3 separate regions of the Homo sapiens genome follow, and regions 1 and 2 are each linked to region 3. Evidence: fine-mapped expression QTL. A gene starts in region 3. Each other region holds a variant in brackets. All regions are shown on one strand. Distances are from middle to middle. Region 1 overlaps UNKL (unk like zinc finger). Region 2 overlaps LMF1 (lipase maturation factor 1). Region 3 holds the start of TELO2 (telomere maintenance 2).

Region 1 (2,752 bases), 100 kb before region 3:
TAAACCAACAGGGACCAGAGAGGAAGCCTCAGCCCTGAGTGACCCCCCAGACCCCATGCTGACCCTGCCCGGGAGCTGGCCAGGGTGATGCGCACACTGTGACTTCAGCCCAAACGATCACCTGAAAATCATCAACATCCATGTCACTCCTTGTACCCCAAGGCACAATGGCCACAGATGACGGGCCTGGTGTGGGAGTCCATCCACATGAGGGATGGGCACAGTGAGAGGGGTCAGACGAGAGCTCCGTGAGGATCCCGCACCTTCACTAACACCGGCACCGTTCTCCCCGTGGGGACGCCACACCTCCGCTACCACCAGCACCGTTCACACCATGAGGACACCGCACCTCCGCTAACACCAGCACCGTTCGCCCCGTGGGGACAGCACACCCCAAGCTACCACCAGCACTGCCTGCCTGGTTTTTCTTCTCTGTATTATAGTGAAATATAATATAAAATTTGCTACAGTGGCCATGGTTTGGTGTAGTACGTGGCATGAATTCCATCCACACCGCTGTGCAGCCATCACCGCGTCCACCTCCAGAACTCCTCATCTTCCAGCCGGAAGCTCTGACCCCGTGAACACTTGCCCCCTCCCCCGGCCCCGGCCCCGGCCCCCACCATGCCACCTGCTGTCTGTGAATGTGACTCCACTAGAGACCTCCTGTGAGTGGAATCACGCAGGTTTTGCCTTTCGGTAACTGGCTCATTTCAGTCAGCACAGTGTCTTTGTTATGGACCAAACGTGTCCCCCCCAAATTCCTACGTGGAAGCCTTGACCCCCGGTGTGACTAAATTTGGAGATAGGGCCTGTGAGGAGTAATTAAGGTGAAATGAGTTCTTACTCCAGGCGTGGAGGCTCACACCTGTAATCCCAACACTTTGGGAGGTCAAAGCAGGAGGATTGCTTGAGCCTAGGAGTTCGAGAACAGGCTGGGCAACCCCATTTCTAAAAAAATACAAAAATTAGCCAAGCCTGGTGGTGTATGCCTGGGGTCCCAGCAACTCAGAAGGCTGAAGTGGGAGGACTGCTTCAAGCCTGGGAGTCCCGGGCTGCAGTGAGCTGGGACTTGGCCACTGCACTACACCTGGGTGACACAGCCAGACCCTGCCTCAAAAAATTTAAGAATCTGTAAAAACACAACAGCAACAATGAAATGAGGTGTGGGGGCAGGGCCCTACGCAGCCACTGTCCTCAGGAAGAGACCCCAGGGATGCCCACGCACAGAGG[G/T]GTGACCCCAGAGGACACGGAGGAGGCAGCATCTGCACCCGGGGGGCCTCAGGAGCCAGCTCTGGACAGCTCAAGCTCGGACTCAGCCCCCAGAACTGAGAGAGTCAAGTGCTGCTGCTTGGGGATTGGTTTTGGTTTGGTTTGAGACAGGGCCTCACTCTGTCGCCCAGGCTGGAGTGCTTGGCTCACTGCAACCTCCACCTCCTGGGCTCCAGCAATTCTCTTGCCTCAGCCTCCCAAAGTACTGGAACCACAGGTGTGAGCTACTGTGCCCAACTAAAACTACCTCATTCATTCATTCATTCATTCATTCAGAGACAGAGTCTCACAGTGTCACCCAGGATGCAGTGCAGTGGCACGATCTCGGCTCACTGCAATCTCCACCTCCCGGCTTCAAGCAATTCTCCTGCCTCAGCTTCCCGAGTAGCTGGGACTACAGGCACGTGCCACCATGCCTGGCTAATATTTTGTATTTTTAGTACAGATGGGGTTTCACCATGTTGGCCAGGCTGGTCCCGGACTCCTGACCTCGTGATCCGCCCACCTTGGCCTCTCAAAGTGCTGAGATTACAGGTGTGAGCCACCGTGCCCGGCAAGTTCTGCTGTTGGAACGGCCCCATCTGCATCCTTCCCTCGCAGCCCAAAAAAGTAACACAGATGGGCTCCAAAGGGCCCCTCTTATTTCCCCGAGCACGATGTTGTGGCTTTGTTTCCAAGGTATAACACGAACGTTTCAAACAGACAAACACGGGGGTACCAGGAAAGAGCTAATTCTACAACAAGCGGACGTCAACCAGATGGCTTTGCGAGCCGAGAGTGGGCGGGACCAAGGATGCATGAGCGCTGCCCTAACGCGATGCCACGGGTCAGGCACGAGGGCGGGAAGCCTCAGCCCTAACGCGACATCAGGCACGAGGGTGGGAAACCTTGGGGGCCTGTACCTGCTTGCTGTCTTGCTCGCTGCCCCTAGGGCCACCCTCGGCCGGCGAGTCTCTCCGCTTGGCCTGCAACATAAAAAACAGTCATATGTGGAAAAAGCAGGGAGGAAATGTAAATTAAAAACATACAATTCAGGCTGGGCACAGTGGCAGCACTTTGGGAGGCTGAGGCGGGCGGATCATCTGAGCTCAGGAGTTCGAGACCAGCCTGGCCAACATGGTGAAAACCTGTCTCTACTAAAAACACAAAAAATAGCCAGGCGTGGTGGCACATGCCTGTAGTTTCAGCTCCTCGAGAGGCTGAGGCAAGAAAATCGCTTGAACCCAGGAGGTGGAGGTTGCAGTGAGCCGAGATGGCACCATTGCACTCCAGCCTGGGCAACAAGAGTGAAACTCCGTCTCAAAAAATAGAATAAAAAATTTAAAAAAGGATATCGCTTGAACCCAGGAGGTGGAGGCTGCAGTGAGCCAAGGTCATACCACCGCACTGCAGGCTGGGTGATAGAGTGAGACTCTGTCTCCAAAAAAAAATACACACACACACACACACACACACACACACACACAATATATATGTACCT
Region 2 (2,752 bases), 560 kb before region 3:
CCCATCCCCACGCCCCCACGGGCCCATCCCTACACCCCCATGGGGGCCCAGTGGTGCAAGATGGGGGTAGGATCGCCTGGAGGTAGACACCCGTACACACCCAAGTCCATCAGGCTAAAATCACAAAGAAATTACAAAACGATTTTGGGGGCCTAAAACACTCCAAAGGCCTTGGGAACCTGTTGGTCTTCCTCTGGGACTCTATCTGGGCACAAAGACCTGGCAAAGTGGCCCAGGAGCTGAGCCAGAGGAAGCCCTGCCCTGGCGCCTGTGCACTCTGCCCCCTACTCACACAAGGCTGCCCCTGGTTCCAGAACCCCTCACCACGAGTGTCTCCTTCCCCTGGTCACATCTCAGCGGCCAGTGGGGTCACAATGCTGTCCCATCCCGCGCCTGAAAAGCCCAGCCATCCCTCCCAGCTGCCCCAGGCCTGGGAGGGGCCAGAAAGCGTCTCCAGAAGCACTGGGGACCGGCCCTGGTCTCAGTCCCAGAACAACGGCTGTGGCCTTTGCTGTTTCAACCTCACCAAACTCTGCAGACGGGAGCCCCTTCCCAGAGCCCGCTCTCCATACAGAACCAGGTGCTAGGCATGGCGCCCCATGGGGGACGGGGACCACGCTGGAGGACAGGGTCCACACTCAGGGGATGGGGCCAAACTGGGGGTCAGGCCCACACTTGGGGGACGGTGCATTGTCGGGAGGGTGCCGGCAAAGGCGGTCTGGTCCTGGAGGGAAAGCAGGCAGCCCCACGGAGCCCTGCCACCCGCTGCTGCGGGTCCTCTCGGGTTCCCGCATCCTTTCCAATGCGCAAGGGCGGCTGGAAGCTCGAGACACTCCCAGATCCAGGCTCACTGAATATCAAAAGGTGCACTCGCTGCAGGGCGGCAGGAAGCGGCCACATTCGGGGCTGCGGAATTCATTACCGTCAGGCTCCTTCTTTGAAGTGAATGTTACCAAACTCAGCAGCCCTCAAAGCTCAGCTCTATCTAAACTCCAGCAGAAACACAGACGGCAGAATGGGGTTTAACAAATATTGTGGTTTTCCTGCGTCCTGGAAAGCGCGGCCCTGACGAACGCAGCTTCATCCTGCTCAGCAGTCACGTCCGTCTGTGAACGGGGGCGCACGGCCCTGGGACACAGAGCCCAGGACAGCAGTGGTCGTGTACGTGTGAACGGGGGCACAGGGCCCTGGGACACAGAGCCCAGGACAGCAGCAGTCGCCTCTGTCTGAACGGGGGCGCAGGACCCTGGGACACAGAGCCCAGGACAGCAGTGGTCGCGTCCGTGTGAACGGGGGCACAGGGCCCTGGGACAGAGCCCAGGACAGCAGTGGTCACGTCCGTCTGAAC[G/A]GGGGCGCAGGACCCTGGGACACAGAGCCCAGGACAGCAGTGGTGGCGTCCGTCTGAACGGGGGCGCAGGACCCTGGGACACAGAGCCCAGGACAGCAGCGGTCGTGTTCGTCTGAACAGGGGTGCAGGGCCCTGGGACACAGAGCCCAGGACAGCAGCAGTCGCGTCCGTCTGAACAGGGGCGCAGGACCCTGGGACACAGAGCCCAGGACAGCAGCAGGCGAGCTCGCTGGAGGGGCTCTTACAACAGTAGAGAGATGTGAACGGAGACCCAAAGACCAGCCTGGGCAGCACAGTGGGACCCCATCTCCACAAAAAGTTAAAAATTAGCTGGCCATGACAGTGCGCCTGTAGTCCCAGCTAATCGGGAGGCTGAGGCGGGAGGATCGCCTGAGCCCGGGAGGTCAAGGAGCTGAGATTGCACCACTGCACTCCAGCCTGGGTGACAGAGCAAGACTCTGCCTTGAAAAGAAAAGAAACGTAAACATTCTGTGGATGGTGTGGTCATCCTGAGAAAAAGGAAGACACTAGCGACGGGGGCTGTGCGGACTTCCCGGCCAGCGGCCGTTTCACTAAGAGCAGCCGTGTGTATTTTCAGGCGGGTCCCGCTCACACCCACAGCATTGTGAGAGCATGTCCCGGGGAGCCCACGCCGAGCCACGAGCCCTCAGAAGGCAGGGTTTGCTGCTGGTGAAATGTTAGGATCTTTGACTGGCAGCCTCTGCAGACTGCTGGGCTGAGAATGGTCTGGGGCCGGGCGCAATGGCTCATGCCTGTAATCCCAGCACTTTGGGAGGCTGAGGTGGGCGGGTTACCTGAGGTCAGGAGTTGGAGACCAGGCTGGCCAACACTGTGAAATCCCATCTCTACTAAAAATACAAAAATTAGCCGGGCGTGGTGGCGGGCGCCTGTAATCCCAGCTACTCGGGAGGCTGAGGCAGGAGAATCACTTGAACCCAGGAGGTGGAGCTTGCAGTGAGCCAAGATCGCACCACTGCTCTCCAGCCTGGGCGACAGAGCGAGACTCCATCTCAAAAAAAAAAAAGGTCTGGGACCGCCCAGTGGGGAAGCCACAGCTACATGCGGCCACGGAGCACATGAGGTGCAGCCAACGCAACCAAGGACTGGAGCTTTTTATTTCATTTAGTTTTAATTAATTTTAGAAACACATGTGCCCAGTGGCCGGGCTGGGTGGGGGCCCTGGAAGCCTGGCCCACCTAGAGCCGGCTGGCTGCTGCCTCGGGGCACGCACTGCCTGAGGATGCTGCTTTGCGGGCCGCAGGGTCCCAGTGACCGACCCCGTGCCCCGCCCTGAACCACCTGATCTCCACTAAAGCCCATTGTGCAAAATGAAGACAAGGAATGTCACTGAGATGGACACAGACGCACACGCGGCTCGGATGA
Region 3 (2,704 bases):
TTTTCTTACCCTACCGGTTTTTTATTTTGATTCCTTTTTTTTTTTTGAAACAGGGTCTTGCTCTGTTGTCCAGGCTGGAGTGCAGTGGCAGTGAACATGGCTCACTGCAGCCTCAACCTCCCGGGCTCAAGCCATCCTCCCACCTCAGCCTCCTGAGTAGCTGGGATCACAGGCTCATGACACCGTGCCTGGCTAATTTTTAAATTTTTTGTAGAGACAGGGTCTCACTATTTTTCCCATTCTTGAACTTCTGGGTGCAAACGATTCTCCCACCTCAGCTTCCCAGTGCTGGAATTACCGGCGTGAGCCACCGGGCCCGGCCTCTGCCAGTTTTTCTGCTCGAGGCCTGTCACCTGGCATATTTCGTATGTACTTTATCTGTTCCCCCGATAGGTGAGCAGGAACTTTGCATCATTTGTTGCTCAGAAGGCTTGGTGCACCAAGCAGGCATTTAATCAATGTTTGTTGAATGGATAACTGTTCCCCAGCTTTTCCCACATCCATCACTGCTGAAATGGCGCCTCTTTAGGTGTCTTCCTGGATTGCCCCCTCCACAAAGATGAAGCCCCCCACACTCCGCTGCGGTGTACAGAAGGCACTGCATGTTGTAAATGTTCAGTGTCCGGCTGTCCAGCCTGGCGGCCACAGCCAAAGGTAGTACCGAGCCCTTGAGATGGGGCTAGTGCTGCAAGGGAACTGGACTTATTTAACTTCAGTTAATTTACAGAGCCACATGCGTCTAGCGCTTACCCTACTGGTCGCAGTTTTTATTCCACGACCCGGCCTCATTTACGGAGCTGCAATTGTTCAGATCTGACATGATCTCAACTGCTCTTTTACTTCCTTGTGTACCGTGCGTTTCCCTTACTGGCCTCTGACCCTTGAAAGCAGAGCCTTACATCCGGGGAAGACGAGCCAGGCCTGTCTTGGTAAACATCTGCCTTAGAGCGAACGCTCGGCGTTCTGGAGAGAATGTGGGACCCGAGGCGGAGGGAAGAGACGGCTGACATCACTCCAGGGTAGGGACGACCGAGATGGGAGAAACTAAGGCGAGAACCCACCACCCGGGCGCAGCGAACCCAGCTCGCAGCCACGTGGGGAAGCGCGGCCCTGCCCTCAGGCCCCGCCCCACTCACGCGTCAGGCCCCGCCCACCCCACCGCCCCCCGCTCCCGCGTCCAGGCTCCGCCCCGTCCCCGCGCAGCGCAGGCGCAGATGCGCCCTCCCGCCTGGCGTCCTCCGCAGATTCGCGCTGAGAGGCCCGCGGAGACCCGCCCCAGAGGCTCAAGAAAACCCGCGGGAGCCTCGCCCGGACCCAGGAACTCGTGCTCGGGGCCAACCGGCTGGGCCGCGATCGCGTTTCGTCCGGGGCCGCGGCGGCCGTGGGGAATCGGCTGCAGCGAATCGGTGGCGCGCGGCGCCTGAGCGCGCTGCAGTCACCCGGGAGCCGGGTCCAGGTCGGGTTGGGGGTCGGGGATCGGGGATCGGGGGTCCGGTTGGGTCGGGTTGGGCTCCAGGTCTGGTTGGGTCGGGTCCAGGTCGGGTAGGAGTCCGGTCGGGGTCCGGGTACAGGTCGGGGTCCGGGCCTGGATCGGGGGCGGGTCCGCGTGCGGCTCCTCTAGCCCCGAACCCGTGTTCCCCGTAAGCTGTTGGTTTCTAAGGGGCGGAGGAATGGCGACTGGAGCCACCTCTCACCGCTCAGGGAGCCGGGAGGGCCGGCAGCTCCCGCGGGCCGAGTTTCCCGCCTTGGGTGCGAGGACGCGTGGGGCCGCGCTGTGCCCGGGGAACACTCACCAGCATCTCTAGCCTCCACCTCCCTCTCGCGCCAGTGGCACTCCCGGTTGAGACAACTGAGAATGTTCCCTGGGCACAGTGGCCCGGGTTGAGAAGCCCTGCAGTGGCTGGTAGCGTTGGGGTCCGAGCGGAGGAGCGAACTCTGGGTGGAAACCGGCAGGCACTGGAGGGGAAGGAGGCGGGACAGGGTTGGGTGGGACCAGGGTTGAGGGGTGTGGGGTCTCGGGGCGCTCACCGAGGGGCTTCCTGAGCTTGTGTGGATTATTTCCGTGCCCCAAGCTGAGCCCTGTGTCCATGTCACAGGTCGTCTTCCCGTGACGCCCAGATCTGTCCTGCAGGATGGAGCCAGCACCCTCAGAGGTTCGACTCGCCGTCCGGGAAGCCATTCATGCCCTCTCGTCTTCGGAGGATGGCGGCCACATCTTCTGCACCCTGGAGTCCCTGAAGCGGTATCTCGGTGAGATGGAGCCTCCAGCGCTCCCGAGGGAGAAGGAGGAGTTTGCCTCGGCCCACTTCTCGCCTGTCCTCAGATGTCTTGCCAGCAGGCTGAGCCCAGCCTGGCTGGAGCTGCTGCCCCATGGCCGCCTGGAGGAGCTGTGGGCCAGCTTCTTCCTGGAGGGCCCGGCGGACCAAGCCTTCCTGGTGTTGATGGAGACCATCGAGGGTGCTGCGGGGTGAGTGGGCTGGGCCCATCCTGGGGTTGCCGGTAGCCTCAGAAGTGATGAGAGTGGCTTGAAGGACTGGACCAAGAGCCTCTCTAGTCCCTGTGAGGGGCTAGAGAGAGAGCCTGCTCCTGGCTGAACCCCTGAACAGAAGAAGCGGTCTGTGTCTGTCTCCTTTGCGACGGGAGGCACCTGCTGTGTCTCACAAAGTCCCCCACTTGCTCCCCGTCCGGCTGTGTCAGAGAGGGA

What was found.
Region 1: its variant is fine-mapped to the expression of TELO2 in putamen (GTEx, PIP 0.97).
Region 2: its variant is fine-mapped to the expression of TELO2 in subcutaneous fat (GTEx, PIP above 0.99).

Annotation. Positions count from the first base shown.
Region 1 is chr16:1,388,458-1,391,209 of GRCh38, forward strand. UNKL (unk like zinc finger) reads right to left here. Exons shown (of 15, transcript NM_001372107.1): 9 at 2,175-2,237. Among named protein-coding and RNA genes, the nearest start is that of UNKL-AS1, 19 kb to the right of the region's middle. The variant G/T (reference allele first, on the strand shown) is at 1,234.
Region 2 is chr16:928,740-931,491 of GRCh38, forward strand. The region is part of intron 3 of LMF1 (lipase maturation factor 1); the gene reads right to left. The region is part of intron 1 of LMF1-AS1 (LMF1 antisense RNA 1); the gene reads left to right. Among named protein-coding and RNA genes, the nearest start is that of LMF1-AS1, 9.1 kb to the left of the region's middle. RefSeq lists enhancers at 56-639, 640-1,221. The variant G/A (reference allele first, on the strand shown) is at 1,349.
Region 3 is chr16:1,492,150-1,494,853 of GRCh38, forward strand. It overlaps TELO2 (telomere maintenance 2), which reads left to right and starts at 1,211. Exons shown (of 21, transcript NM_016111.4): 1 at 1,211-1,456; 2 at 2,097-2,467. The coding sequence starts at 2,133. RefSeq lists enhancers at 869-918, 1,016-1,916 and silencers at 1,129-1,218, 1,389-1,438, 1,449-1,648.